4 separate regions of the Homo sapiens genome follow, and all the other regions are linked to region 4. Evidence: fine-mapped expression QTL. A gene starts in region 4. Each other region holds a variant in brackets. All regions are shown on one strand. Distances are from middle to middle.

Evidence for each region.
Region 1: its variant is fine-mapped to the expression of NAV3 in whole blood (TOPMed, PIP above 0.99).
Region 2: its variant is fine-mapped to the expression of NAV3 in spinal cord (GTEx, PIP above 0.99).
Region 3: its variant is fine-mapped to the expression of NAV3 in whole blood (TOPMed, PIP above 0.99).

Annotation. Positions count from the first base shown.
Region 1 is chr12:78,029,288-78,037,399 of GRCh38, reverse strand. All of the region lies in intron 9 of NAV3 (neuron navigator 3), which reads right to left. Among named protein-coding and RNA genes, the nearest start is that of NAV3, 200 kb to the right of the region's middle. The variant C/T (reference allele first, on the strand shown) is at 3,276.
Region 2 is chr12:78,174,421-78,182,532 of GRCh38, reverse strand. NAV3 (neuron navigator 3) reads right to left here. Exons shown (of 40, transcript NM_001024383.2): 25 at 7,106-7,227; 26 at 6,074-6,094; 27 at 5,220-5,392; 28 at 4,848-4,913; 29 at 2,851-3,004; 30 at 1,488-1,662. Among named protein-coding and RNA genes, the nearest start is that of LINC02424, 180 kb to the left of the region's middle. The variant A/G (reference allele first, on the strand shown) is at 4,823.
Region 3 is chr12:78,002,922-78,011,033 of GRCh38, reverse strand. NAV3 (neuron navigator 3) reads right to left here. Exons shown (of 40, transcript NM_001024383.2): 8 at 3,589-4,615. Among named protein-coding and RNA genes, the nearest start is that of NAV3, 180 kb to the right of the region's middle. The variant C/T (reference allele first, on the strand shown) is at 3,930.
Region 4 is chr12:77,827,733-77,835,844 of GRCh38, reverse strand. NAV3 (neuron navigator 3) reads right to left here and starts at 4,951. Exons shown (of 40, transcript NM_001024383.2): 1 at 4,141-4,951. The coding sequence starts at 4,383.

The DNA of each region.
Region 1 (8,112 bases), 200 kb before region 4:
AAATTGGACTTACCTAATAAGTCAGTGTAAAGTGCCTGTTCTAGATCACCCAGCATGGTAAGGATCACCTCCTCATCCAGATGAGCTGTCCCTTCCCGCAAACAGCTTTCTCCCTCCTCTTCAGCCCAGCTTCTGCTGATGCTGCTTGGCTTGGAGGACACGTTTTCATCTTCAGACCTACTATCTTCATCACTCTCACCTTCCAAGCCTCTTCTTGCAGACAATTCCTCTAAGTCTTCACTGTCTGACTGGCTGCCCCCAGCAGGCAGGAGGTTCCAGGCTGAGCTGCTGGTGTGATACAGGGACTGCACAGACCGCGAGAGAAACTTGGACAGTGAGCGCCGCTCTGCATAGTTGGCTTCTCTCTGGCTGGCCTTGGCAGCATTTCCAAACCAGTTGGAAATGCGCACCGTGGGTCTCCTCTCCCCATCACTGGTGAGGGAAAGATTGGTCAGAGACTTTTGTTTCTGAAGGCAAGCTCCCTTTCTCCTTACTTCTTTGCTCCGGAACACAGAGAGTTCAGCAGGCCGCTGCATGATTCTTCCAGTGGCTCCTTCCTTTCAATTGGACTTCATATTGTCTTGTTACACTGTGATTGTAACTGATCCATTTGATTTTGATTATCACATGCACTTCAATAAAAGCTCAAGCTCACACATTCACAGAAGATTCTAGAGATATAGTATATATAATTATTTGCCCCCAATTTAGCTTGACACATCACTTTACTAATCAGCAGTACTTACAAATATTTTGCTCGAATATATCTGAAGCAGAAAAGAGTTCACCAAAGACTCTCCTCCAGCTGAAAAGTAGTCCAGGAAGCCAACTACGTTTGCCCGTCTTCATCCAATCACATGTCTCAGCAGGAGGATGGGTCCACATTTCCCTCTGTTGCTTCTGTGTCCCGAAACGCCAGGAGGTGAAGCACGAGCTGAGGTCTCTTGCTTTTTGCTTTTTTTTTTCTTTCCCCTGCCTTTCACCAGCCCTTAACTGACCTAGGTCTGTAACCCTTTACTCTAACGAGCTGACACAGTGCAGCAAGTACAGCCTGCTCATAGGAGCCCAGGAAGAGCAGGAATTAAGCACTGACGCCCAGCCCTGCACAAGCCTCTTACATTTTAGTATTCCACCTGCATTCTCAGATCTATGGCTCTTCCTTGCTGCTGCAGTGGATGCTGCTGGCTGCCATGGCAGCAAACATCCTGCCAAATTAAAACAGAGGCACGGGAACGGCTGTCCAGCGTAGAATGCCACAGGTTTCTGAGCCAAGCCTGTACGAGATCTTCCACTATTAACCTTATGCACATTTAAATGACTCTCAGCCACCCAATCTCAAACACGGACACACACTCACACCCTCACATACACAACACACACTCCCCGATGCCGAGAATGACAGACTAATTCTCTGTAGCTGCAGGCAGCTGAAGCAGGCAGATCTCCCTTCTGAATGTTGGGATTTGTGCTGTAAAAGCACAAATCAAATTCAAGAGTGTAAAGGACCTAAAAAATGAAGCATGACACTCTCCACCCGCTAGGAGATAATGCTTTAAAGGGAAAGACTTCCCTAATCTTTTAAAGAACAAAGTCAAAGCCTTCTTATTTTGAATCCTAAAATCCTAATGTGATGATAAAGATTTCTTACAGCCTTTTTGTAAAAACAAAAAGGAAATAGAAAGAAAAAAATAACTCAAAAGGGTTTTCCCTTGATATTTTGACTCAAAGCTTAAAATTGAAAGTTTATGGTCAAGTGTGTGGAACATAATAATGTTACAGATAACACAAAATGCACATTGTGTCTTTTGATATTGCATTTTTCCAGGTCTATTTCATAAGCCTATCACAGCATAATCAGCTCTTATTTCTTAATGTTTTCATAAAAACAGAAAACCTAAAGATAATTTTCTTGTATTTACCTTGTACTGGTACGTACACTATACCACCACAAAATTCTGATTTTAGGACAACTTTAAAAAACAAATATATAGTATAGCAGAAATCATGGGTACCATTGACAGTTAAGAAGACTATCGACCTTTCAGTATTTAACTTCTGAAGATTTTCTGCTCACAAACAGAAAAATAGGGATTTCTCCTTTATCAAATGAGGGAAAATGGAGAAATATGCAGAGATATTATCTTCATCATTTTCAGAGCTAATGTGGCAAAATTAATTGTGATTTTCTACCTCCTATTGCCAATCTCAATAGAGGAAATACCCAATCTCATAACTATATATATTAGCATTATAATATGCATTGCCTATAACTTTACACATAATAACCACTTACTTTGTAAAGTTAATTATTCCTTATGCCCCACCTTTCAAGGTAGATCAGACTTAGACCCATTTTATAGATATGAAAAGGAAATTAGCTGGAAAGAACAGCAATTATTTGTGACAAAATTCTGCAATAAAGAAATCTGTGAATTATTGATACTCATTCTCAATTCTATACTTTTTAAATACTACTCGTTTATATAAAATGTGCTAAATAAAATTACAGTACAAATATCAGATAATTGAAACTGACAGTTATGCTCCTAAAAACACAATTTTGTAAAGTATTTTTTGGAAGACCAAAATGACACTCCCCTTAGAATTCCTAAGTAGAAAATCTTTTTTCTTTCATTTTGAGTTATTGTGACACAGTGAATTTCCAAGTCCTGAGACCATAGTGAAATTTGTTCAAATTATGAAATTTCAATGTATTTAACATTTGTTACACTAGTATATATGCTAATATACCCTAAAGCCTTACAGATTCACAAAAAATGCAATTCTAATGCTTTATATATCAAATGAGTTGACCTTATTCATCTGTAAATAAAAGCAATATTTATGCCCTTTCCTTATTCAAGACTGCTTATACATATACCAATCAGTTTAAACCTGTGGTTCTCAAGCTTCATATGTTCAGAACCACTCGGAGGGCTTATCAAAACACAGTTCGCTGTGCCCCAGCCACATAACTGCTCATTCAGTTGGACTCGGAGGGTCCTGGGACTTTGTATTTCTAACATATTTCCAGATACTGCTGGCTCTGAAAACCCCCTTTGAGAACTACTATGCTGAGATTAGTGGTTTTCAACTGGGGATGGTTTTTCCCCCAAGGGACATTTGGCAATATCTGGAAACATTTTTCGTTATCACAACTGTGGGTGTGGTGGTGACATCTAAGGGGAAGTGGCCAGTGATGTTGCTAAACATCCTACAATGATAAACCACCCCCATGCAAAAAAGAATTCTGCATTTCACAACGTCCACAGTGC[C/T]GAAGTTGGGAAATCCTGAATTAGATTGTTATATTGCATTTACAAATGGTTTAGAAACTTCAGTGGCATTCAATACAAAGATGTATTTTGCTGACATTAATGTCCACTCTGTTTGTTACAGCTCTCTCTCAGGTATTCTTTATTCTAACAACCATGCTACAAGAGCAATCCTAGTCTGGGACATGTTGATTTTATGACCAAAGGAAAAGAGAGGTGAGAGATCCAAGCAATGGCTCTTAAGTTTCTGCTCAGGAACATCCCATGTCATTTTTCCACTTGTATTTCATTTGTCAGATTAAATCACATGGTTCTTCCTGATTCAATGAGACAGGAAATTTAATCCTTCTGGAGGGGTGAACCCTGGAAAGGATGGGCTCAGTCCAATGGAGCCAGCAAGGAGGGGATTGTAGAGAAGGCTTATCAAAAGGGGGTTTCTGTCTCTTTGTTCAAAGATATTGTTATTAACTTGTGGTTACAGTAGGTTTGTCCCAGAACTACATCAGTCCACATTTACTCTGAGCGACAGTGGGGAACCCACTTATTCCTTCTCTGGAGAGCGCCATCCTGCTTGCTTTGGGGGTACATTCATATATGAATGTTTTTATATTTGTTTGTATTCACACATATAGATGTATGTTATACAAGGAAGAGGAGGAAGGTGCAGTGCAAAGGAGACAAATACACCCAGTCAGTAGGAAAAATGTGAATCATTCTAATTACGCCAAGACCTAAAATAAGTTATAGCTATTATAATGTGCTGGAAAGGAATGCTTTTCAGCTCTTTAGTAAACATAATTATAATGTGGCTATTTAAGTAAAAGACCTAAACTGATTTGAATTATCTGAGCTTGATCTTCTTGATCTTTATAAACATTCAAAAAAAAAAGGGCAATTTCAGTGATCATTTACAGAGATTGTAAATGTCAGATATTTCCCACTTTTAATACAAAGTCTGGTAGTCAGTAAAAGCACATGTAACCATTCGCTTATCCTTCTGGTTAACCTAAATTCTTCTATTTCTAAAATGGTTTCCTGAATTCAACCAATAATTTTAATATTACTTTTTTACAAATGACATGCCAGCTTTATTGATATTGAGCCAGTCCAGCACCTATGAACATTTTTCAGTTGAATATAAATTCCAGATAAAGGTTAAGAAGTGAATTAAACAAATGTGTTACATGTTGGTGGATAGTCTTATGCAAAAAAAAAGGGCAAGTGTGAACCTATAGAAGAAAAATTGAAAAACTTCCTTGAGTACCAGTGGGATGAAAATTTGGGCTCGCTTTACATTTGGCAGAATCACTTGGAAGATGATGAAAGGGATGGCCTCTGAGGACAAATTCTTTCTGTCAATGAATGTGAGAATAAAACTCAAGCCAAAGCAGTAAAATCTGTACCATTAATTCAGCCAGCACTGTAATATTGAGGTCATGATATGAATCTTAGAGGAAAGGCAGGAAGCAATAAGCTACTTCTTCAATGGCAGAAATTATATAATACATTTCACCTGACTATAATAATTATTGGAGCTACCATCATCAGATTGGGTAAATACAACTAGGTTTCTTCACAAAGAACATAATAAGCAAAAGCAAATTTAAGTGACGTACTTAAAAATTTTGGAGAGGTGCACTGAAGACTTATGAAGAATATTCAAATTGAAAAAGTCATTTATCCAGTATTCTACTTTATTGAGTGTCATGCATTTCTGATATTTATCTTCAAACCATAATTTATTACCTTTTTAAACTTTCATTACCATTTAATGGCAAAGACAATGTTTTTATAATGTCAAGTGAGTTACTGCATTGGTGAAAATTTAAACAGCTAAGCTCTCCAACTAACTTAGCAAATCCCTCTAACACATCTGCATTGCAATGTGAACCACTCAAGTTTGCTCTTTAATAGTATGGCAAATCTTTACATGTCATACATCCTGTGGGTCATGCAATAGGGATGATTTTCACATTTGTGTAAGCACAAAAAGACTTTTTTCTGGGTTACATAACTCAAAAGTAGAGGAGAAATAGTTTCAGACATGGATTTTTCAGGGGCTCAGTTATTTCCGACAATGGCCTTGAATTTGGTCTCTCCTGATTTAGGTTCTGTTTCCTCTATGTTTGTTTCATTTGAGGGTGGAGGTCACTGTTAGCAGGTCTAAGCTTCTCTTTTGTTAGTTTTAGGTGTAGTGGAAAAAGAGACCACTTCTCTTTTTTTTTATTATTATTATTTTTTTATTATACTTTAAGTTTTAGGGTACATGTGCACATTGTGCAGGTTAGTTACATATGTATACATGTGCCATGCTGGTGCGCTGCACCCACTAACTCGTCATCTAGCATTAGGTATATCTCCCATTGCTATCCCTCCCCCCTCCCCCCACCCCACCACAGTCGCCAGAGTGTGATATTCCCCTTCCTGTGTCCATGTGATCTCATTGTTCAATTCCCACCTATGAGTGAGAATATGCGGTGCTTGGTTTTTTGTTCTTGCAATAGTTTACTGAGAATGATGATTTCCAATTTCATCCATGTCCCTACAAAGGACATGAACTCATCATTTTTTATGGCTGCATAGTATTCCATGGTGTATATGTGCCACATTTTCTCTTATAACAACCTCAGGAAAAGTCCTGAGATTGAGTCTTATTTGTTCTGATCAAACTTGATTGGGTCACACATCCAGTCCTCAAACAGTCACTGCAGTCAATGAATAGATTGTTCTCATTGGCTCCACTTATATCAATTTCAGTTAGATCACATGAGCAGAGAATTCTCCCCAAAGAAAATCAAGGTGCTGTTATCAGAAGATGGGGCAATGGATACCAGACACACAAAACGACACCAGTACTTCCAGGTAGGCTTAATACACAGCAATAGAGCTTAAGCTATAGAACTCCTAACTCACCTAAACCCCTTTCTAGACACTATACATTTTATTTTCTGTACTATTTTCAGGACTCTGAATGTTATATAGACTTCACAAATTTATAAAGCCTGCATCTTACCCTGGCAAGACTAACTTCCTCAGAATTCTGTATCATGAAGGCCACTTCACTTGGGAAGCAGAATTATTCCTCACTGAGGCCCCTACAGCAACCATGAGCAATAAAAGTTCAACAATAACAATAGTGTTGAAGCTTGGGGTTGCAGAAAATCAGAGAACTATCGAAACCTCAGTAAGTTTAGGAGAAATGCCCAATTTTACAAAAAGAAACTAATGAAAAGAGTAAGTTAAGAAGAATTTGTTTCCCATTATTTTCATGTTATTCCACAATTTCATTGTTCATTAGAATTCTACAATATGCATGTCTGATCTTCTTTTAAGTTCTGCATGACTCTTTACAGCTAAGTTAGTTGTTTCCATGTGCCTATTTATTCATTTATTTGTGGTGTTAAATTTTATCTATTTGTTTCTTACTTTTTCAAAGGAGAGCTCACTTCTTAGTCACATTTGTTTTCCCAAATTTTGAGATGTCTGGCATGTGTAAGATGCCAGGTGATAATTACTGAAAAGACTGATGGAGGAATAATACCATACCTCACAACAATCTTCTGAGTTTATTAAGTATCATCATATTCACCACACAGAAAAGGGAACCAGGGAGCAATTCACAGTGCAGAGGCCAAATAATCGCTAAATAATTGCAGTGCTGAAGCCAAAATTTATTTTTTCCAATTCCTAGAACATTTCTCTTTCCACATTTCAAACAGTCTTGGAAGGGGTATTCTGTGGGCCAGTCTGAGCTAGGACCTGGCAATAAATTCAGGTGCTTAGTGCTTTGTGGTTTCACTAGCATCCAGAACTCAGAAAGATGAAAGCCAATAAAGGATGGAGATTCTGAGAAAGAGAGGCATCATTAATATAGAAAACATCTCATGAGCTTTAGAATTCTGAGAGGTTCATTCTTTTATAGGGTTATTCTATTACAGGCTTAATATCCCTTATCAGAAATGCTTGGGACCAGAAGTGTTTTGCATGTTGAATTTTTTCAGATTTTGGAATATTTGCCTATACATAATGAGATATCTTGGGGATGGGACCCAAGTCAAAATTCACCTATGTTTCATATGCATCTTATACACATAGCCTGAAGGTAATTCTATACATTTTTAAAAATTTTTTGCATGAAACAAAGTTTATGTGCATTGAACCATCAGAAATCAAAGGTGTCTCTATCTCAGTCACCTAACAGGATTGTACAATCTGTGGTTTTGTGGCATCACCATCATTCCTGACTGAATTTATATGCTACTAATAGGCAATTATTTTATTGCAATTATTTATACATAAGTACTTACCAATAAAAAATATGACATAGCATTAATGCAGTGAAAAAATAATGTGTTCAAGGTCACTAAGCAGCACAGTAGCATTGCCAGAATACCTGTATCAGCTATGAAACAACAGCAACCACAAACAACCACAAGCTTTCCATCTCTACATTCAATGCTGTATTTGGATTAAAAGGTTACTGTACACTGTATTTTTTTTTTAGGTGAGAAGAAACATCAGAAGCAGTTGAGGGACTGGGAAGTGGGCCCCTTAGGGATGAGGTGGCATTCTGCTGTGTAGCTTTTTAAAATGTTTACCCCAGAGTCATCTGCTTCATTAACAACAGTTTTTGTCTTAGAAATCTCTCTGATTTTTATCAACTGGCATAATTTATTGTTCTGTAATGAATGTACACTGCTCTAGTTCTTCACTAAGATCATCATGCATTTCTATCATGTTGTCTCTAGGCACTTTTTCTGCAGTGTTAACATTGTTATCTTCATCATTGCTATTATCACAGTCACCTGAATTCAGCACCATTTTGGCTATGTTATCAATG
Region 2 (8,112 bases), 350 kb before region 4:
CTTCAGTATTAAACTTGCCTCCTTCAAACCTTATCATATTTTCATAAAATAAAACAGAATTTTATAAAAGGCAGTGAAACCCTACCATTAGTCTGACCTATAAGGTACTGGCCTTTGTCTTTTCCTAGGAGACAAGCCTGAGGATCCAGAAATGCACTGGTCATTATGAGATGTAGATCTTACTTCACTTCTCTGTCAGGTCCATCAGCAACAAGCCAACATAGAGGATGTTGTTCAGAACTGCCAGATTCTATACATTTAAACATTTGCGTTCTTTCTTTTGCAGAATATTTTGTTGAGTGTGGATAATACTTTATGTGTAATTTACAAACTCAAATTACCATCCACTTCCACAGTCTTATTTTACCTAATGATCTATAAGTTCATTTAATTCTGAAATCTCTTGCTTTTTACTTGGCTTCTGACATTAGTTGTACTTGATGCTTATTCTCAGAATTTATTTTCTTTCTCTAATCCCCACCAGAAGTTTACAAAAGTTGTTTTCTTAAATTACAGGGAGTGCCCACTTGTCTTTTACATATAAGATGAAGGCCATTATTTTATATTATGAAGAGCAGCCATAATAGCAGAATTTTTAACATTCTGTCTTTTTAGAAGAGATGTGATTCATTGGAAATGTAATCAATATCAGCATGCCATGTCATTTCCCTTCTCCTTCTCCTTCTGTATTTTAATATGATTTAAGGCAAGCAGTGTACTATCTCCATTCTATAATGGAATCTAACGTTGGCTAGGAACATACATATTATTGGTTTCCAAGCGTCATCTGGTGGCCGTGCTTCACAATTACCATAGATCCTCATGTAAATATTATATAGACTAAATTCTCTATCCTTGAAATGATTCTCTTGAATGAACTGTTCCACAGAAACAGCTACACTTTATGCTTGAATGGTTCATGAGATATTAAGATGACATTATGTCATATGATTCTATTTGCAATCAAATCAAAACTGTACCCTTGTTCCATCACTAGTACTGTGTTCTTTATCTTTGTTGGAAATTTAATAGAGCTGCAGACTGGGTGACAGTAGCATTATTGTTTTCTCAGAGCAGCATCACACAGGTTCATCAAGTCAGATTTAGAAAATAAAGCCTGCTACACTTATAAATGGGTTTTGCACACTTAATAAAAGTCATTGGGGTTATTATTATATCCATAAGTACTAATTATCATCACTGAGAGTATTTCTTCATCATCAGAATCATGGAGAAAGTACTTCCTAGGGAAAAGTGATTTCTTAAAAATATTATGAAGACCATATCTCTAAGACTGACTTTTGGACAGAGAATGTGCTTTTAAAATTATAACTAAGTAGACTAGATTTATAAGATCAAACTAGGACTATTTCTGAGAATTAGAGTGTAACATTTTTAAGAGTACGTAAAGTTCTCCAAATTCCAGGCTTCCCACCCGTTAACTCATGGGTATGCTGTGATTCAGGCAAGCATGTGCACTAAATCACCTGAGCTAACAGCCTCTGTGATGTTCAAATTGTTTAGAGAAAGTCCTAATGACTGCCTGGAAGATGAAGAGGAGGTGCTGCTTGAGGATTCTGACGGTGGCCGAGTAGGCTTAGCTGTGTTACCAGTTTCTGCCTTCAACCGGTCATTTTCAGCTTTCAGTATTTCAATTTCATTCTGTTATGAAGATGGAAAACATGAAAAAAACTGAGTTGGTTTGATTGAGAAAATAGCACCAAGTCTTTTATCAGAGTTAATTAGCTTGTTTGTTAAATAAAACATGTTAATATGTTAAATAAAGAAATATAAGATATGAAATAGGATTTCCTTCCCAAGAAGGAAATTTAACCTTTTTCTCTCTCACACATTATACATTCCTGAATTCACAAATATAGACAATCCAACCATTCGACATGCTTATCATTATTTTTTAACTAAATCATGAGGACTTGGTCTCATTTGAATTAAGAAAAATATGATGAAATCATTCATAACACTTCTCATTTTAAAGGTGATGTTAAAATCTTATAAGCATATAATGCCATTTGTAATATTGTTATAAATCTGTAGACAGTTGAAAGACAGAGCAAAACAAAAATAATGTCAATAAGGTGATTTAAAATTACTCCAAAATCATATCTAACATCTGAAAAAGTTTCTTTTTTTCCTTCCAATCGGGACACTAAGCTCATAAAAAAACAACAAAAGTCTTTAGATGAACATATACAGTGGCAGATGAATCTGCTCAGCAATGAGCTTTTCTTATTGCAGTCATCTGTGGTACCAAGTGATTACTGGTATACAATAATAAAATGAAAACTTAGTCTGAGCACAGACTGGTTCTGAATTTAGCCTTTAGATGTTTTTCAAAAAAATACACAAGCCTTACTTTTACAGATGGCATTCTAAATCACTTTTACTTCTGTATTCAGAAAGCTTGTGTTGAATTTCTATAGTTTCCTCATTACTTTTGTATTTCAGTAGAAAACTGGTGAAAGTATGTGAAAATCAGATTTCAAAAGAACAGGCAAAAAGCCAAAATAAAAGTAAATGATGGAAAAGTGAAGAAGCAAGAATTGTAGTAGCTTCTCTAAAAGCTTAGCTCTCAACCTGAATCCAATTACTAGTACAGTATCCTGAATGGTTCTTGAATACAACTTGCCAGTTTGCACTCCCACTTCCAAACTTGGATTTGACAAAATTCTCAATTCAGTACTAACAGATGAGTTGCAAAGACTGAATAAACAGAGTACATTTCTAAGGTGGGTTTCCAAGTGGAATTTATTCTGTGTTAACCAAGAGAACAGAATAAGCAGCATTTTTTTGTTTCTCCATTTTATTCCTTGAAAGTGCTTCAGTACCAACCTGCATCCGGTTCATGGCTTCCCGGATCTGATCAAGATGATGAGCAGAGCTGAGGGCCTCCAGCCGAATATCCGTTAATTTTAATTCCTTTTCTCTGAGCTCGCTCTTCAGCTGCAGAATTATCTCTGCCTCAGCTTCTGTGCATTCACAGATCCTGAAGAAGGAAACAAACAGAATCAGTGGCCTGGGGAAGCCAGAGGATTAAGAAAAGCACTGCCTCTTTTAAAGGCTGCACTGCAATATTCTCCAGCAGGTACAGATATGGTGTGCTGCTGGCAAAACCTAGAGAAAAGGAGAAGGAGTTTTACAAACGGTTATGCATTCACAGGTTCAAAACGGAAGTAGCTTTTTCTTTTAATCTTTTTTTCTATTTTTTAAAGTTTAAAAATAGTCTACTCTTACTGAATATAAAGTAATCCTAAAAATTCTTTTATTGGTGATATTTATAGGCAGAAAAGTCATAGATTACTACATTTCATTCCAACATTTTCAAGGGACTTAAACCTCTATTTGCAACATGTGACTATTCTTTTATAAGAGCAGTTATTACATTCTTAAAATGTTGATTTCTTCTTTTGTAAAATTGTGCAAAAAAAAAGCTTTGCCACAATACTGTCTTTAATTACCATAAAAATCCAATATAAACATTGTAGAAAATAAATTAGAGATATTACTTTTGGACATTTAAATAATGGGTGAGTTATATAACCTCCCTACTGGGCTCAGCTGATTTAGGAGATCACAGCTAAATCAAAGGTTTCAGCCCCTGTTAGCAGGCTAGCTGAGGGCTGTTTGAAGGAAACACATTGTATCCTTGTTGTGTTTTTATTGTTTTGTGGACAGCTTCGCAGGAAATTTGCCAAAAAAATTGTTTTATATTAACTAACATATTTTCCATTTAAAATTTGACAACTAGTTTACTGGCCACAAAATGACAGTGACATGTTCTTCCTTTCTGCATAAATGATAAAATTATGTAGGCAAAGCACAGTGGCCCTGTTCTATATGAGTTCTATGCTAGTTGTTGTCATGGGCATACAAGGAAATTAGATTTAAATAGTAAATAACACAGAGAATTATCTCACCAGAACACTTTTCTATATTCGAAATGTGTTCGTTCTTGTACAGTAGTCCCCCACAATTATAGTTTATCCACAATTTTAGTTTCTGTGGTTTAAGTTACCTACAGTCAAACATGGTCCAAAAATATTACAGTATTTTGGGCCAGGTGGGGTGGCTCGCACCTGTAATCCCAGTACTTTGGGAGGCCGAGGTGGGTGAATCACTTGAGGTCAGGAGTTCGAGACCAGCCTGGCCAACATGGTGAAACCCCATCTTTACTAAAAATACAAAAAATTAGCCAGGTGTGGTGGTGCACGCCTGTAAACCCAGCTACTCAGGAGGTTGAGACAGGAGAATCGCTTGAACCCATGAGGCAGAGGTTGCAGTGAACCGAGATCTTGACATCGCACTCGAGCTTGGGTGACAGAGTGAGACTTTGTTTCAAAAAAAAAAAAAAAAACACTATTTTGAGGAAGATAGAGACCACATTAATATAACTATTATCAGAAAATATTGTTGTAATTGTTCTATTATTGCTGTTAATCACTTATTGTGCCTAATTTTTAAATTAAATTTTATCATATGTAGGTATGCATGTATAGAAAAAAAAAACATAATATACATAGGGCTTGGTGCTATCTATGGTTTCAGGCATCCACTGGGGGTCTTGGAAAGTACCCCTGGTGGATAACGGGGGGCTACTGTACTACCAAAAAGTGGGCTATCATAAAAATGCTAGGTTAGATTAACTAATAGAATCAAAGAAAACTGGATTGCAGGTTGATTTTAGGAAACCAAATTTTAGTTGAAAAAACAGAAAGAGAAGGTATTTATTGTTGAAATGCATGTGAGTGATTTTAGAAAAAGCAAAAGCAAACACTACTTAGGTTAGAACCTGGATCTTTGCAGT[A/G]TTCATGCATCGCACTCCACTTTACCGAGATCTATGCTTGTAGATCACAGGGCCATTTTGTCGTTTCTTTGGTGGCCAGACAAGGGGTGACCTGTATGTACATACAGTTAGACAGATACATGGACAAATGCCCATGAAAAGAAGTGAGAATCATGATTCAGAAAACTGGAGAATGAGATCAAGAAACACTTGAATTCTAACATATGAAAATGAAAAAGAAAAATGAAAATGAAAGAAACCAGTGAAAGAGAAATATGAAAAGAGAAACTAATGCTGTCCATCATTCTCAGAAAAATCTGAAAATAATTGGTACAGATATGGTTAGAACATAAATAAGGCCTTCATCTAAAATTGTTTTTAAAAAATATGTCTGCATTTTGCAGAAGGAGCAACTTACGCTGAAGCAGATTGTGAGGGCTTCATGGATGCTGAGCCACAGTCACCAGCATTATGGGGTAACTTGGGGGATGCCGGAAGGGATGAATCAGTAAGCTCTTCAATGTCAGAATGTGATGAAGGAGGCTTGGTGGACTTTTTCTTCCCAAAGGCTTGTTTGAAAGAACTTCTCAGCTGAAACAAGGACAGAAATTACCCTTCTTGTCTATTTGCACTTGGAGAGCTTTTGCTTTGGGGCGTTAGTTTGCAGATGCCATCCTAGCCACTGCCTGGGGTCAGTATGTACAAGCAGAGTATTAACAATTGCAGCACAGTATCTCTAAAAAAAAAATGATACCGTGTTTTGTGTGTTCATTTTATTCTTGTATTAATCCAGCGCAGCGCAAACATGGAAGGCTTTTAAATAGTGCAAGGTCAAGGGCATGGCTGTCAGAGCACTCATTTAAAACTAAGTACCTTGAAGGGATCTCCATTCCCAATGCTTCTCTCTTCAAGGCAATTTGTTTTAAATGGCCACTTTAGCGCTACAATCAAGTCATGTCCTGCTGACAGTACAAACTTAAAAAGCAAAATGAAATCAAATTCACCTAACACTTCATTAATTGTGATTTTTCTATTCAAATTTTCCAACCCCAGACTACTCAAAACCAGAATTGGTATCCCCTACAGCTCTATTCAGAAAGTGGTTTTACATCTCTTTAAAATTTGAGATTAAAATGAAAAGACACAAAGAAAAGACATACAAGGTAATCTGTTTTAAAAGGTATAAAAGCCTACTGCCAAAATGGATAGCATTCATGCCAAGGTAGGGTTTTTTTATAGATGCATGCCAAATTGTCCACGGTTTATATTCACCTCACTTCCTCTAGAGTTCACCTTGCAGAAACATGAAAGAGTGTGGAATTACAAATCAAGGGAATGAAGGCTGATCAGTATTTTAAAATATTACCTGTATAAACATTTTTTAAGATAAAAAGATATTTCTTTCATTATTTGTAGAAAGCACTCCAGTAAAATCCTCTGATAATTATGTCTGGATTTCATCAAGAGTTGTATTTACTCAAAATCTACATTTTTTTTTTGGTATTAAAAGAAATCATTGACTCCATTGTTTTTAAATTTTTCGCAGTAACAGTATCTTCCCCTGGGCTATTTAGCTATTGATCAATATCATAAATTATATCACTAGCAAACTTAAGGTACAGTTCTGTTAAAGTGCATTTCTATATTTCTGCTATATTCTCTTGGTTAAAAACATCAAGCAGACACTAATGTGGTTGATTTCTTTTAGGGTGAAACTATTCACACGGTAAGCCCTGTCGATTCCAAAGGTGGAATGAGAGTTTCATTGTTTATTCTTTCCCTTTATTAACTCCCATTCTCCTTTTCCTCCAAGACCACTATCACCATCATCATCACCATCATCATCATTTTTTCACTTTTCCTTCATCTCTATGCCCACAATAAACCCCTATTTTAAGCCATTTATTCACAGATGTTATCTTATTTTTCTTTAGTATAACTCTATAGTTATACTACATAGTTTGTATAGTTATACTATAGAAAAATTAGATAACATCTGTGAATAAATGATATTCACAAATAAATATAGTTGCTATTAACTGTCTTTTTATTGGTTAGAAAATTCAGGCCCCTCAAAAGGTCTAGATATAGTGGTGATTCAAACCCAAGTTTAGTCCCAACATTAAAATGTATGCTTTTCAGTACATGCCACTCCAATTTTGGTGATGAGTGCAGCATTTGAGGTCTCAGTAGCTTGAATGGGACCCTTTGTAAACTACTGCAGATCACTAAAGCCCCAAAGAAAAAGGCCTAACACATTATGCATTAATAAGCTTCTGAATTAGATGAAGGATGGTAACTTACCCAGTTTTTCTTTTTCTTCTTCTTGGAGTCGGCATCATTACCACTGCCAATACTGGAATGGCTTGTGGCACTGTTGATACTAGAAACACTTTCAGAGGAATGCTGTCTTCTGATGCGAAGATCTAGCAATAGAGGGAGAGTATCACATCGGCTCATGAAGAGTCTCGATCTGAACAAATAAGTCTTTTAGGTCTTTTGAGAGGCAGTTCTCTAATAAAGGTCAACAAGGCTTTGTACAGATAATTTCAATGCAGTTTTGACTTTAGAAGTTTAATAAAGTACAACCATATTTGTTTTAATTAACTGAGTTATCTACATTAAGATTTAATGAGAATCTCATATAAGTCCATAGCCCTGGCAGTTTAATGAGTTCTCAGTTTTGTCTAAAATTAAATGCTATGCTAGTGATTTCTACTGAATACCTGGATCAAGCAGCTCTTCCAAAATGATTTATTCTGAATGATTAATTTAAAAGAGTAAATGGAAACTCAGAATGAGAATTAATTGTGCTTTTTAATATTTGTGCTTCAAATACAGTTACTAGAGCCAAATGTATTAACTTTCCATTTCATAGAATCATACCATATTAGAGCCAAAACAAAACCTGAAGTCATGTAAGCACATAATCTCACAGATGAGGAAACTGAAGTGAAAAGAAGTTAAGTAACTTGGCCAAAGTCAAACAGCCAATGAAAGGCAGATCCTCCAAAGAAAGCCTAGGTAGACTGAGTTTGTGAGTTAAACAGAGGACATATTTAAGACAGTGCAATTCTTCCAATGTACCCCTACTGCCTGCCCATGACTTATTATAGAATAGTAATAGTAATACCAATAACAAATAATAATCAAACTAGGTTTTACAATATGCTTGATATGCCCCCGGAGTACCTAATTTTATTCTTAAAGCAAACTACTGAAATGAGTTTAATTACTAAATGTAACTTTCACATGGTCACATAGCTGAAAAATAGTGGAGCCAGTCTCAGCCTTAGGCTGTTTCTAATATC
Region 3 (8,112 bases), 180 kb before region 4:
TTATCACTCTGTAGAGATAATTGAATTACTGAAACTATGTACAGAATAATTTATATTAGATAGGAAGTTAGGCTAATAGGAAATCTATTAACTTCCAGAATCCACATTATATTTATAGAACTCTGAACACCCAGTGTGTGACAAAGAGTACTATGAAGCATTTATTGAAGTCTCAGAAGGAATAAGTACTGACCTAGAATTGAGAAAAAAAGTCACCATCAGCCATCAATCTTCCCATTATATAAAAGTTATTTAATTATATTTACATATCATATATATATGTATCTGTATACATTTATATAATTTATACTAATTAACAGCAATTACCATTTTCAATTATAAATGAGTTCTGATTGAGAATTTTGCAAGTGTACTATTGGCATTTTCCTAACCAGAATTTTCTCAGTAACAATACCTCTTATTTCTGTCACATAGATAGAACTGATAAGCAAAGCAAATTTCTACTAGCTTTATGATCTGAAGAGATTATTACTATTCTGACTTAATATCTCTGCTTCTTCATTTCTGGAAAATGGGGGATGACATTTTTTCTCATGAGTTCATGATGAAGTTTAAATGAGAAAATTCACATATATTTTGTGACACAAAGATTTTCACTAAGTAAGCACTCAACAAATGATAATACCAACATCAAAAAGTAAATTATTAGTCTTATCTCATCAAATGATTAGCAACTCCAAAAATAATTGTCAGGGATTTTATAGGAGGGATTCTTACATGGGGATAGAACAGTGAAAGTCAGAAAGAACATAAAAGGTTACATAATCCAAATGTCATGACTCTATAAACAAGCTTTTACTGAAAGCTGAAAAGAATGAATATTAACCACTCTGCCTTTTGAGGATTTACATATTATTTGTAAAATTGTTCTGCATTGATTTAAAAACTTTGAATGAATATTACTTTATATATAGACTTCAATGTGAAATTTTATGAGACAGTTTTAATTTATTTATTTATTGTAGAAACAGGGTCTTGCTCTGGTGTACAGGCTGGTCTCAAAGTCCTGGCCTCAAGTCATCCTCCCACCTTGGCCTCCCAAAATGCTGGGATTACAGGCATGAGCCACCATGCCAACCATAGTTTCATTTATTTTTAGCTATCTTATATTGTTGATAATAATAAAAATAATTACTGATATTCATGTAATTTGCTCAAAATCTGGCTGTGTGCTAAAAATTTTACATGGGATTATTTTCTTTAATCTTTCATACAATCAATCGAGGTAGGCATCCTTTATCAATCATACTTTATAGGATTAGAAAGTGAAGTTTAGGGAAGGCTGTTTACTATGTGGCAGATACTGTTCTACAGATAAATATCAACTCAATCTTCAAAATAGGCTAATGAGGTAGCTTCTACAATTATCATACCTATTTCACAGATTAGGAAATTGTGGGTCAGAATCTTTACATATATGACCCAAAGTAACACAACTGATCAGTGGTGGCATTGAGATTCCCACCTAGGCAACCACCACCACAAGATGCTGTTTCTGAACAATGGTAGAGTAAGACATATTCTATCGCCCTTTTTTTCTCTTTTTTTTTTTTTTTTTTTTTTTTTTGAGTTTCCCTCTTGTTACCCAGGCTGCAGTGCAAATGCACGATCTCAGCTCACTGCAACCTCTGCCACCTCCTGGGTTCAAGCGATTCTCCTCCTGCTTCAGCCTCTCTAATGCCTCTTTTCTTAGCTACTTGGCTACACTGCCTCACTTTTATAGTCTTGTTGTTAAAGAGGTCAAACAGAAACTCAAAGAGTTTCTCAAAGAACTCATCAGGTTCACACAGCGGATCCACACTGTAACTTCTAAGCTGTGCTGCTGTGCTGCTTCCTGTTTTTGATATTTAAAAGTTACATTTTCAAATGGAAACCACTAAATTTGTTTCCACTGGATATTTTATTGCAAACAATTTTTTTAAAAGCTTGTTGCTACTTATAGAAAGAAGCCTACTAAATTAGCAGTTCTAGATTTACACTTTCCTATGAAATTCACTTGTGATTTTTTGAAAGGATTGATGTTTTTACAGAATATATTTGTAATCCAAAAGTGTGCTGAGTATGACATATTTAAAACTTCATGATTTTTTTTCTCACGTTTTTGAAATGTGGATCATGATTTTGACATCTTAAATTCTGCTTTGTCAAACAGGGACCCTGGAGTCAGAAGGAGCTGCAGACTCCCATCTGATCCAAATACAAGTATTTTAAATGAGTTAGTACTATTGAAGTCAGAATAGCAACATTCAATTGTAATGTCCCAAGAGCTTAAATGTAATAATTATAATAATTTTGTTTTGCTGAGTGTATAAAAAACCTCAGAAAAAAAGCACTTACATTCCTCATTGAGCAAAAAAATAAATCAGTATAAACTGCTTTATTTTAAAAACTTTTACATTCAAAAAATTTAATAAAATTTTAAACTATATAGTTTTGACCCTTTCTTAATTATAGTGGGTCCTGCTTCCTATTCATAAAATTTTCTTTCTGTAGTTAAATTGCCAACCTGCCCGAAAGAGGGACAAAGCAGACATTATTGCTCCCCAGGCCATCTCCTTACCAACCAAGCAGTGAATAAACTGGGGACACAGCAGTTACTGACATATCTCTAATCGATTAAAACAAATCACAGAACAACAAGCAAAGTGTTGTCTTTACCATTTGGATGGTAGGATGCATATTTTAAAATGCATAATAATGCATTTAAAAATTTTATATTGTGTATTTCAATGCCTACAAAATAAGAATGCAAAGTAAAATAAACAATAAATAAATAAAAGGTAAAAAAAAAACAAATCAGTAATACAACCCAAATAAGTAATACAAATTATATATGTAACCCCTTTTACCTAGAAACCTATGCCTTGCTGTGGGAAATTAATATAAAATTTACACTGAGAAAGTAATATCTTATAAATAACATTTGAAGAACATTTGCAACACATCAGGATATACAGTAAACATGTTATATGCATGACCTCTGTTAATAGTCTCAACTCTACAAAGTAGTGCATGGTTCCTATTTGACAGCTGAAGAAAATGAGACTAAAGAATGTTAAGTAACTTTCCCAATGTCTTATAGCTGAAAAGTGGCAGAACTAGGAATGAAATCCGCAACTTTATCATTTCAGAGGCTGCCTCTTTAACCATTATGGTATACTTTCTCCCAAAGATGACAACAAAAATAACCGTAAACGATGTAAAAGTGAGAATTATTTTAAAAGTCTGCCGCTAGTAATAGAAGCAGTATAGTAGTAGCAATAATATGAATAAACACAAGAGAAAGTTGTGGCATCTGGTTTCTAGCTGGCTTTTGATAACAAGTAATTCAATTTTTGAAGGTCTCAATTGCTGACAGGGAATGAGAGAGGGAATAAAACTAGATCCTACTGGAAGTCTTTTTCCAGACTAAGATTCCGCACTGAATTCTAGGCCTCTATCTTTAGCATGAAACTTTACTCCAAAATGACGACATAAAGCACCACTTTATCAGCCTTCCCTATTACACTCTGAGTATGTAGGCCTGTAAATATATTTACAACTGTGGATAAACAGAGGCCACCTTACCTGTAAATGAATGGTGCCACTGTCGCGGTATTCGGGTGGCTATGTTGCTGCTGTTGAGGGAGTTGGACAGCACCATTTCCTGTGCTCTGCCCACTGCTTTGTGCCACTGTCATGGTACAGGAACCAGAAGGAGAAGCTTGGCCAGCTTCCCTTCCTTCCAAAGGGGCAGGACAACTAGAAGCACTTGCTTTCTCCATGGTTATAGGCTTAGATAAGGACTGGGAAGGGCTCCCCTTGGTAGTCCTGAATTTCTCAGACTCTTTGCTTGCTGTGCTGCCAGGTGAAATGGTTTGCTTTACTGTTGGAACTTTAGAGCCTGGTTTTGGAATACCACTGGAAGA[C/T]GGAATTAAGCTTTCCTTCTTAGCTGCTGTTGTCTTGCTGCCCTTAGGGATCAAGCTTGCAATTTTGGAGGTCTTTTTTGGAGCCATCTCTGTCACCTGATCCTTCTCTTCTTTGACTGGTTTTTCAGTGCAAACTTTATTTTTGTCCCTGTTCTTTTCTTCTTTTTCCTTTGGCTGTAGCAAAGACTTTTTATTGCTGAGATTTTTGCTTCCAGCTTTTGGAGGGGCCAACTTAGGTGACACTTTGGGACTGCTATTTGTTGAGCCACCACTATTCAGACCACTGTTAAAACCTTCCATTTCACCAGATTCAGAAAAGGCATCATCATCCTTCCCACCATCACTAGGTCCTGAACTGGGAGGCTGCGGGGGGCGTAAAGCAGTCCGGGCATTGACTAGCTTGAATTTCTCAAGCATGGATTTCTGTCCTGAGGGAGCAGTTTTGACCCCTTCTGAGACAGGTGGCTTCAGTCTGTCTGAAGATGGTGTGGGGGAGGTGGCTGTACTTGACTGCTTTACAGTCAACATGGTGGAGGTGGCACTGTGTTTGACATTCATGGACTTGCTGCGCCAGGGCTTGCTGGCACTTGGAGAAGGGATGGCAGAGGCAGGAGGCTGCCCAGCAGTACTGGGAGGCTGCACGTTACCATTTACACCTGAAGACGATTGAGGTCCTTTGGAGGAATCTGGACATTGTTTAGAAGAAAAATAAAGAAAAGGCGATTAATCTTGATCATTTATATTACATAATTGAGAACTTCCAAACTATTGATGGATAGAAGTCTCTCTCCTCTGAACTGAAAAGAGACTGCAGCATCAATCACTTCTCTGATGTGATTTTTTTTTACCATATTTCAAAAATGCAGAGTGTTTGAGAGGCATTGATTCTGGGGTGGGGGCTGTGGGGGGACGTGTTTATTTTCCCCTCTGAAATTACTCTTACCCAAATAAATTTGCTAGTCACAGATATCCAAAGATGAACAAAACACTATCCCTCCTCTAAGCAATTCTCTTTGTTATTTTCCAACCACCACTGTAGCCCATGCTAGTAAATGGATATTCCACCTTGCCCTATAAAAATATGTTGTATAATGCTTGAACTCGGGAAGCAGAGGTTGCAGTGAGCTGAGATCTCACTGCTGCCCTCCAGCCTGGATGACAGAGCAAGACTCTCTCTCAAAAAAAAAAGTTATTTATGATATTTCGCTTTATTCTATAATGAATATAATATGAATAATTATTACAAATATAATTATGCTAACTGACATTTTATTGAAGGTTCTCTAACTGCATTATTTCACAACAGCCCATTGAAGTGGGAAGGGCTCATATTCCTAATTCCCATTTGTAGAAACCAGAGCTTAGTAAGCTTCATTCAATGATTTAGGTATCTAATGAGGAGTGTATGGTGGAGCTAGGCTTTGACCCCACATCTTGTCACTCTACAGCCCAAGCTCTATAATTTTCTTGGAATGTCAAACATTCTAAGTGTTTACCACAGTCATTCTCAAAACTTTAATGTGCACACATGATACTTGGGGATCCTGTTAAATGCACATGTGATACAGCAGGTCTGCAGTGGGCCCTGAGGTTCTGCATTGCCAACAATCTTCTGAATGATGCCGTTGCTGCTCACACACAAGTCATACTTTGAGTAGCAAGGGTTGAGTAGACTCACAAATTCTGAAAACTGTTGGCCTTTTCAGTTTTAAAGGGCTGTTTCTTAACACAGTCCCCCAAATTGCTAAATTCATTAAATGTTTCATAGCTATGCAATATTAACATTTTTTACTGAACTTTCAGAACCTTGGCTAGCTCTGAGTTCACCTGGATGTTTAGCAGTTTGCTTCAAATAATCTCTAAAACCAAAATAAACTCTTCAGGTTCCCCTAATGTCATTTTTTCTCATCTCTTTGTCCACATACTTGTTATGTATCTTCTGTGCATCTACAACTAGGTTAAGAAGTAAGAGTGTGCCTGGGAGCTTCGGTGGGGTTGATCGGAGAGGGTAGAAAAGAACCAGTCAGGATGCTTTTTTAACTGGCTGATGAACAAGGGACATAAGAGAAGGTGCTCTTTCCTTAGAAAAGAGAAACAAGTTGAAGACATTAGCTAGAAGACTGCTATAGAAGTTCAAGTACAGAAGAGGAATTTCAACATCACTGCACCCAAAACTGAAACAAGAGGGACTCTGAATTATGACATCCACATCCAACCCACAGTAATAGTCATAACAGCAGCTGTAACATCATTCTCAGGCGAGTACACACATATAAGATACTTCCTGAAGCTCCGCTCTAAATCTGTCCACAGCCTGTCCCTATACAGAGGCAATGAGATGCTTCAGATTTCATTAAGAGGGCAAATCATAGGTTGTTGTGCATCAGGAAGGCACTGGAATAATAAGAGTCTCTCTGGACTCCTCACAGTAAAGATTGCACAACAGCAGCTGAAATGGCAGCACCTGTAGTTTCTACAGAATGAATGTAGTCACAAATTATAATCGTTGCCATTTATATATTCAGGAATAAGTAGCCTGGTCTCAATGACATATTTCTGAATGTTGATTACTCAACTTCTGACTATGAATGAATCTCAGCATGGGGAAAATAACAGATTTCTAATGCACATATTTAAAGGCATTCCAAAAATGGATTTGTATCTTGCATTTTTATGGGCTATCTCTGCTTACAGCCTTACCTCTTGTCTATGGTCCCCAAATAGCAATTTGCTTCCACTCCCTGTCTTCTGCTTCCTCTTCTTATACCTCACCTACACTCACCATTGCCAACTCCACCATAACCAAATAATATTATTCATCTACTGCTTACTTTATTCCAAGTACATAATAAGTACTTCATACATGGTATCTCATTTAAACCCATAATAATCTACAATATGCTTATGATCTCTCTTGTTAAAAATGAGAAAATGAAAACTTAGAAAGATAATTTGTTTTCAATCATACATATGGCAAAACTTAGAAAAAACAAAATCTAAATTGGAACTCATTTTTATCTGACTCAAACATTTGGAAGATTTTCACTGTCTCTTCTTTCCACATGTTTACTGCATGCCAGAAATTCTGCTGAAATGGCTCTCCAGCAAGCCACATTTATCGCACAGTCAAGTTAATTGGGTAACTCCTTGTTTTCCTTCTTCCTTGGTGAGCAGGATATAAATGGGGAGAACATCACACAAGACACTTTATTCAGGTATTATATACCTTCTTCTTTAGCATCTTACTTGCACCTGTTCCTCTGAGTTGATGTGAGAATAGATATTCGTTCACACTTGCAAAACATCTAAATTCACAGAACTAATGTCTAGTTATCTCATCTTGTAAATAAACAATATTGATGACTTGGGAACAATGCCAACCAAGTTCTAAAATTAATACATGGATGTAAATGTGGCAGTCACAACAGGCATATGGAAAGTTTATAGTGGGACATTTCTCTCTGGAACCTCAGTTAGCTGTAGAGTTAGCACCATGTTACCAAGAGTGGTATCAGTCTGAGAAAGGACATAGAGATGATTCTTAATCGCTTATCTCTTTTTCCTCACTGAATAGTGCGTTGCTTTGACAAAAGTAAACTAGGTTCCAACTCTGAAATATAATAAGTGACAACAAAAATGATGACAAAAGCACCATTCATTTCTGAAGTATTTCCTGCATGGCAGGCATTGTGCTCATTGATATAGATGGTCCCTGCTGAATATAGGATACTTTAAGCATCACAGATCGTGGTGGAAAGAGGAAAATGATTAAACAATGTGGCTATGCCACTTATTTTGATAAATAATTAGGACTTTAATTCCACAACAACATACCAAATGCTTTAAAAAAATTAAGTTGAAGAAAAGTGGCAGTCAAATCTAAATATGTCTTGGTATTAAGTGGATCCTCATGCACCTCCTCACACTGCTTTGCATAAATAATTGCTCGTGTATTGCCTCAGTCATCAATTTTATAGTGACTCAAAAGAAACATGGGGTGGAGTTTTATAGGGATCCTAGAAGAGCTGTTCATTCTGCACATGCTTATATTGTACCTTTGCAATATTAGAGTGCCACTCTGTGGAGAGTTGTACAATTTAGAGAAGCTTACATTCACTCACCAGCCAGTATGTAATTTATGTACAGGCATATATACTTTGTGGACACCTCAATATTTGTGCAT
Region 4 (8,112 bases):
AAGTGACAACTGGGAGACAAGAATGCCTGAATGAAGACATTATAAGATATGAGAAGCAAATAAAGTTTTCTTCTTAAGCAGGATGGTGAATATGCTGCATGGATGTGGGTAGAGAGACACAGGAGGAGACGATACCAATTTGGAATCACTGAAATAATTGATAGGAAACTTTAAAGGCCATCAAAGGATGAGCAATTGCAGAAGAAGATAAACCCAAGCTATAATACTGAAGTAAAATTCTCAACTTCTGGCAAGTTATGGGATGTGAAATGGTGATGTACTTTACCAGATATTAGTCTAGGAATTCGGGATTAGATGACTGGAATGATGGCATTTGCACTAATTGAAACAACAGGTGAAGGGAGTGACAACTGAACACACATTTCTGACACTGTCATATGTAAATTTGTTCTCTCAAACCAGATCATAAAACTGTTTGGTACAAGGACTAGCAGAGTACCCCACATAAATGTTTCTTAATGACAGTCGTCTATTGTGGGTACTATCAATAGTATCTTTTCCTAGAAATTGAACCCATAATTCTTAGCTGAGCACATGGCTGCCTAGAACAAATACTACATTTTTCAGTCTCCATTGGAGCAAGGTAAGGCCTTGGAACTATAACGAGGCCAGTGTGGAAGAATATTTAATAAAACAGGGTGTATCTTTTTAATTAAGTGGAGTGCAATTATCTACTCAAGACTATGAGGTGTGAGCCACAAATCGATGATGGCAACCAAAATAGAGCCTGGTTCCCTGACAACTTCCTGAAGTCTCCCTACCAGCCATACATGGACTGCTCAACTCCAGATTTCCTTTACATGAAAATGAAATAAACGTCTATCTTCTTTATGCTATTGTTATGTTGACTTTTCTGCTTTTGCAGCCAAGTCTAATTCTCTCTAATATAACTACCTTGTTCGATTTTGCTATTTACTTCAGTTCTGGGTTTTTTTTTTTTTCCCAAAAGCTAAAATAACTCTACATATACTTCTTTTTAACATTTAGAAATATTCTGAACTGCTGACCAGGCATTCTTTACATTTGTTTGAAAACATTTTTAATCTGATAAGTGGCATGGTGAAAACATCCCTATAAATACAACTTTGCTTACCACAGAGGCTTATTGGGATATCAGATGTTTGATTAATATGTTTGCTAACCAAAGAGATCAACCAAAATTATATTGAAAACAGTGCTTATAGTGCTCAAATCCTAGGCCAAGGTCATTTAGCAAAGTGGAAGTTTCACTAAACCTACAGAAAAGATAGCCATGGTCAGCAGAGACAGTGTCTCTCTCTATTCTTGCCATTGAATCCATACAGACTTGTGGATACACAGAAGATTAGAATGGAATTTTATGGCATTTCTTTTAATTATTTGCAAAAAGATAAATATTTTTAGTATTTTGTTGATAATTTATGTTTCCCTGCTTTTTACTCTGAATTGTTCACTTTGAACTGAGAACTATAAACCCATAAAAAATATTTTATTTTAACTGATTTTTCTCACATGGACAATGCTATGTTAGACATAGAACTCCACAAATCATCCATTCCCAACCCCTTGTTTTATACATAAAATTGATACAGGAAGGGGGCAGGGAAGTGCTGTGTAGAGAAAGATGGGGTCCCTGGCTAGGGCTCCACCCCTGGGCCTGTGCCCATGGACCTAGTGAGGACAGGCATTTATGTTTTCATGCCCAAATGTTGCATTGTCTAAGACCACCCTGGCCCACCACCTCCCCATTCTGTGCCTATAAAAACCCCGAGACCTTAGCAGGCAGAGACAAAAATGGCTGGACATCGAGAGGAACACACTGGCGGAAGAACACACAAGCGGCTGGACGTCGAAAGGAACACATAAGCGGCTGGACGTCGAAAGGAACACACCAGCAGAAGAGGACACCGACAGGCACCTGCAGACACCGGCAGGCCATCGACTGCAGAACGACATGGACCCGAGGGGAATCTAGCCAGGGAGGTCAGAGGAGAGTCTGGCTGCTGGGCGGCCCAACTCCAGAGGAAAATCACCTTTCCGCCTTATGGCTCCCCATCCATCTGCTGAGAGGTACTTCCAACATTCAAAAGAACCTTGCACTCATCCTCCAAGCCCACATGTGACTCGATTTTTCCGGAACCAAGGCGAGAACCCAGAATACAGAAAGCCCTCTGCCCTTGCAATAAGGCAGAGGGTCTAACTGAGCTGATTAACACAAGCCACCTTCATACTGCAAAACTAAAAGAACACACTGTAACACACGCCCACTGGAGCTTCAGGAGCTGTAAATACTCAACCCTAGATGCTGCTGTAGGGTCGAAGCTCCACACCCTGCCCATCTGCATGATCCCTCTAGAGGTTTCAGCAGCGGGGCATTGAAGACGTAAGCCACTCCTGCTGTCACATGCCCTGTGAGGGGGACAAGGAAACATTTCCTGTTTCGAAATGATTCCAAAAGATGAACAAACTTAACTGAATCCTTCTCGGAATAACTATTTATTCATTCATTGATTCATTAATTGCTGTATTCATTCATCCAACTACTATTTAATTCTTATCATGCATAAAGCATTGTACAGGGAGAGAGCTGGAACACAGGATAAGATACGAGACCTGCCTTCTATATGTTTTCAACTTAGTGGAGATACAAATAAATTATCCAGATAATTAAAAGAAATTATCCAGATAATTAAAATACACAAGCATTTCTACAGAAAAAGAATTGGGAAGGAGGAATGGTGGGGAAGGGATAGCTAGCAAAGACTTTATGAATAAAGTTGGATCTGGGATAAAGCTTAAAGGATCTGAACAGGTGAAGGTGGGATGGGCATTGTAGAAAAAGGAGTGGCTTTCTTTTTCACTTCTAGAGTTGATTTTTGTATAAAGGTTTTTTCCTTAAATTATTTTAAACTAACATTTGGATAGCAGAGTAAAATGAAAATATTTCCTAAGAAGCCAGAGACGAGGCTGTGACTTTGGAAAGCTTGACATCATAGTTAATGCTGCATTAAAAAGTGATGCTGAGTAGAATGATGGTTACCAGAGGCTGGAAAGGGTAGTGGCGAGGGGTAGGGGGAGTGTGGATCGTTAATGAGTACAAAAATACATTTAGATAGAATGAATAAGATCTAGTATTTGATAGCACTATAGGATGATTACTGTCAACAATAACTTATTCTATATTTTTAAATAACTAAAAGAATATATAATGTTTGCAACACAAAGACATGATAAATGCTTAAGGCAACAGATACTCCATTTACCCTGATATGATTATTACACATTGTATGCCTGTATCAGAATCTCTCATGAACCACATAAATATATACACCAATATGTACCCATAAATATATACACCTAATATGTACCAATAAAAGTAAAAATGCACAAAACAAAAGTGACGCTTATCAAGGTACAAATGAATCCGCATGAAGTTCAGCAGCTTCAGTGCCATTCTAGCATGCGTGACTGGAGAAAACGGTTGTAGTATGCTTTAGAAACCAAGGGCTATGAGCAACTACTCACAAAATATCATAAATTAAATGACTGAAAAAGATGTCAGTAATAAGTAAAAGAGTAGCGTTTCAGTTTACAAGGGAAAGTCCATATAAATGTGCAGTATCAAGGAAAATAGTATGTCATTTTCCTTCATACTGCAATGAATTAAGCAGCCTATGATACAAATTTTCAAGCAGAAATTCTTTGAAATGCAAATGACATTTAGAGAAAAGTGATGGTGTCTATATGAATTATTACAAATAAATGTCTTTTTGAAAGTACCTATTTTCATACATTGCAGTATGGATGACAATAGGTTCTCTTTTTCTCACATTTGTGACTGATTATGATTATTAGTAATAGAGCAATATCTAGAACTAACTAGGCATTCATCAATAAGTAGTATTAAATGATTACAATAGATGCATATTCAGAAAATTTTGATCATGACTTTTACAACTCTAAACTAAGAATACAGTGTTTACATAAGCTAAATATTCAGCTTTTCAGCCATTATAACTACTTACATCCTTACACTGGTATTCCTCTACTACTCCCCATTTCATAACATGTTTTATAGTGCACTTAAAGAGAAATGTGCATTTTAGCTACACAAGTCTGCAGGTAACTTCAGCAACTAACCTTGCTGTCTTCTTTCTCCTTGGCTTTTCCTTGGAGGGGTTTCTTCTCTCCAAATTCACAGGTTGATTTTAACGCAAGCTGACAAGAAAGCATGGAGCTCTCTGTTTCAGTAAGTTCCAAAGGTCTTGAAGAACAGTGCTGTGACCCAGTAGTGCCAAGATTTGGTATCGGAAGAGCAGTATGCACAGGCTTTGACCCAACAGCTGGCTGCCTCAGTTTTGAGGCAACCCCAAGAACAGGCATGGCTTCTATAAAATTATCTTCTTGCTGCCAAAGAAAATGCTTCTAACCTCAGTCTGGTAGACTCCAACTTTAGTATTTCCAGAACAAATACTTTAAACAAAACTAGCAGTCATCCTGATTTTTAAAAAGCTAATAATATAATTTTCAGGAAGAGGCAAAACTTCCCTGCATCTTTAGTTAAGTATCTTTTCTTTCTTGCTGGCTGGGATTCATATTCATTCTCATTCTCTCTCTCTCTCTCTTTCTCTCTCTCTCTCTCTCTCTCTGTCTCTCTCTCTCTCTCTCTCTCTCTGTCTCTCTCTCTCTCTCTGTTCAGTGACTCAGTATCTAAGTAATACTAAATACTCCTTTGGGGAGTAAACTCTTCTTCAAGGTAACTGCTACAAAGCTCCTTCTTAGGATTAAAGAGCTCTTAGTTTTGCTTATTTTTTTTTCTCACTAAAGCAGTCTGAGTCTGAACTTTGAGATTGAAAAAGAGGAAAAAATCAAAAGGAAAAGCCCTTCAGTCCAACTGTCAGAGCAGCCAAAAGACCACAACAGTGGAAGGACAGGGGTTCTTCCTGATTTCAGAAATAGCCAGCCTGCATTCTCTTTTTAAAGAAAATTGTATTTCCCCCAGCTCAGAAAAAATAAAAAGAATGGACATGTTAATGGCCAAAACAAACAGCTGTTGGAAGAACTTTTAGCCCGGAAACAATCTCAGCAATAAAGTTGTTTGTCTGATTTCCAGCTATTTTTCACTACTGACAGCCATGAGCCACGATGTTCATTCTGTTGCATCCCATGAAATCAGGCTAAAATCATGCAATAGTGCAACTAGCTAAAGCAGTTAAATCATTCATCGGACCATAGCTGCCTAGGTTATGAAAATAGAGTAAACACAGGAAGCAGGGCACTAAATATGTAGTAATCATTGTTCCCAAATTTAATAAGTCATGATTATAAAAACATTCAAAGCTAACACTTATGTGGAATGTATTACAAAGCAGTTATGGAGCTAAGCATTTTATGCATTATCACATTTAATCATTGGAATGACTCAAAGTATAGGCATATTTATTTTCTTCACTTTATAGAAAGAACAGCTATGACTTGGAGACACTGAAAAAATTGACTAAAATGATGAAGCTAGAAAGGGGGAAAGAATGTATGATTTTAGTTTGTAAACCTGTCTTTTAAAATGGTTGAAAATAACACTGTTATTCAAGCTTATGACGTCCAACTTAAAATCCCAAGCTTCTAAAAACTGTCCAAACAGATACTCAGTGAGAATGAATGATGATGCTTCCATCCATAGAATTATTTTAATATAATCATAGCATGTTCTATTTCTGGTTAAAGCATGTCAGGAACTTTAAATAAACAAGGGGTAAACTTTTAAGAAAACATCTAATGTACCATGCATTATTGTTCTGAAACTGATTGCACTCAGAAAATGGATACAGAGAGCAATTATATACACCAAATATAAAAATTAGTAATAATGCAACCAAAGGTCTTAGAAAAATGAGTGGTGGACACTTAGTATAGACACAATGAATCATGGAAATTATTAAATCGTAACCATTTTTTATAGAAAATGTCTTTCTTTAGTGAAGAAATGGTCATCTTTGGCCTACTGTTTCCAGGTCTTTAAATCACTACGTACTTTTATCTAAGAAGCAGTAATTTATAGATGAAAGAGCCAATAACTAAAAGTATATGTTCTGCTGATGCAGCATAGAAGACAGGAAATGTAAGTTAGAAGTCTTGCAGGCTTTAAAAATAGTAACCCAAGTGGGCTTTACACAGCGGGGTAATACAAAACAAATACAACACTAGTGGTATCAAAGAAATGAAATAATCTCTCTGAGGAAGTAAGTTATTTTGCAATTTGCAAACCATTCAACACATTATAACTTTCAGAAACTATAAGGTAATACAGAGTTGGAGAGGTTCATGTTCGTAAAATGAGGTTTAGTTCATAATAAGACATATGCAACTTGTAATCCTCACAATGCAAAACAAAACAGCACCTAAATAATAGAACTTGTGGGAAAAATTGATTCTAGGAAGTTCACTCAAAACATATGCAACTTTGGGAGTATATTGCTAGCAAAAATAATATTGGCACCTCAGAAAATAATTTGGACCACTCAAGGAAGTGACTCAGAATTACATAAAAAAATAATTGGGTATAAATGCTGGCAACACTTTAACCAGAATTGGTGGAAGAAATCCGGTTGGAAGGCAAACTCCAAGCCAGTAGGCTTGCCATTGAAATGGGTACAGGGTCAGGGCAACTGCAAATATTTAAGAGCTGCACAAGGCCAGGGGCATGCCCCTTTGAAGAGGAAGCCCCAGATGCAGGCATTCATTTTTGTTTTTGTTTTTAGTTTTCTTAAAACTGAGCCAAAAGGGCTCCTGCTGACTATACAACATTCAAACTGAGGGCTTCTTTGCCCACCCAAGGTTATAATTCTACGCTGACTATTCTGCTTCCCTTTGCCTAGAATAAATTGTATATAAAGCTACACAACTTCTGCATTATACTAGTACAAAATTCCTGTTTGCCAATTACAAATGAGCTCATTGGTATTTTGGAAACATGCATTGGAGGAGAATGTATCGTAATTCCTGGAACAATTAGATTGAAAAAAAAGGATTCACATTCAATAAGATGTCTTTTCACTTTGAAATACCTTTTGCATATTAGGCAATATCTTTCACTCTGACTGAAATATAAGATGGTATTAGTAGCCACTGTCAACTAATTTTTTGCAGTAATATCTACCACCAAAAGCAACAAAACCAAACTAACTTACTATAAAAAATGTGCTTTGTGCCAGGAGTTGTCATCTCAATTTATCTTAAAAGAACCACACCGTTTTGAGACCTAGGAGACAAAGGCACCGAGAAAGTAAAAAATTAGCTTACGGTCACTGATACCTTGTAGATGAAGTTCAAAATGAGGTTTTACAAACTGAGTTCAACAAACCAGATGTGATGGTGACCTGAGTGCTTACTAAAATATAGATGATTGTATTCATCTCGAACCCACTGTGTTAGTCCATTTGTGCTACTATAACAGAATATCTAAAACTGGGTAATTTATAAATAACAACAGATTTGCTTCTTACAGTTCTGGAGGCTGGGAAGCATAAGAGTGAGGGGCCCATATGTGGTGAGGGTCTTCTTGCTGCATCTACCCATGGTGGAAGGCAGAAGAGCAAGAGAGCACTCATATAAGAGAGACAGAAAGGGCCAAGCTCGCTTTTATAACGGATTATACTCTCATGATAATCCCACTTCCACAATAACATTAATCCATGTATGAAGTTAGTGTTCTCATGGCCTACTCACCTTTTAATGTCTCCATCTCTTAATACCATTCACAATGCCAACTAAATTTCAACATGAGTTTTTGGAGGGGATGCAAAACTCATGTTGAAACCATCACGAGGGAGAGGGAAAGGTCTGAGAGTCATATTTAAGCGAATTGATTCTTCTAAAAACTAGAATTTAAGATCTGTAAATTATAGGATTTGTAGTTTGATAGTTCAGACAATGGGCTGTAAAGTGGGACTGCTTAAAAGCAAATCTCTGCTTCCTTACTTCCTAGTTATATGAATTTGGAAGTTGCTGTGTCTCAGTTTCATCATCTATAAAATGGAGTAAAAAAATAATTATTCTTCCTTCACAGGGGTGCTGTGAGAATTAAAGGAAGTAAATGTATGATGTTGTTAAGAT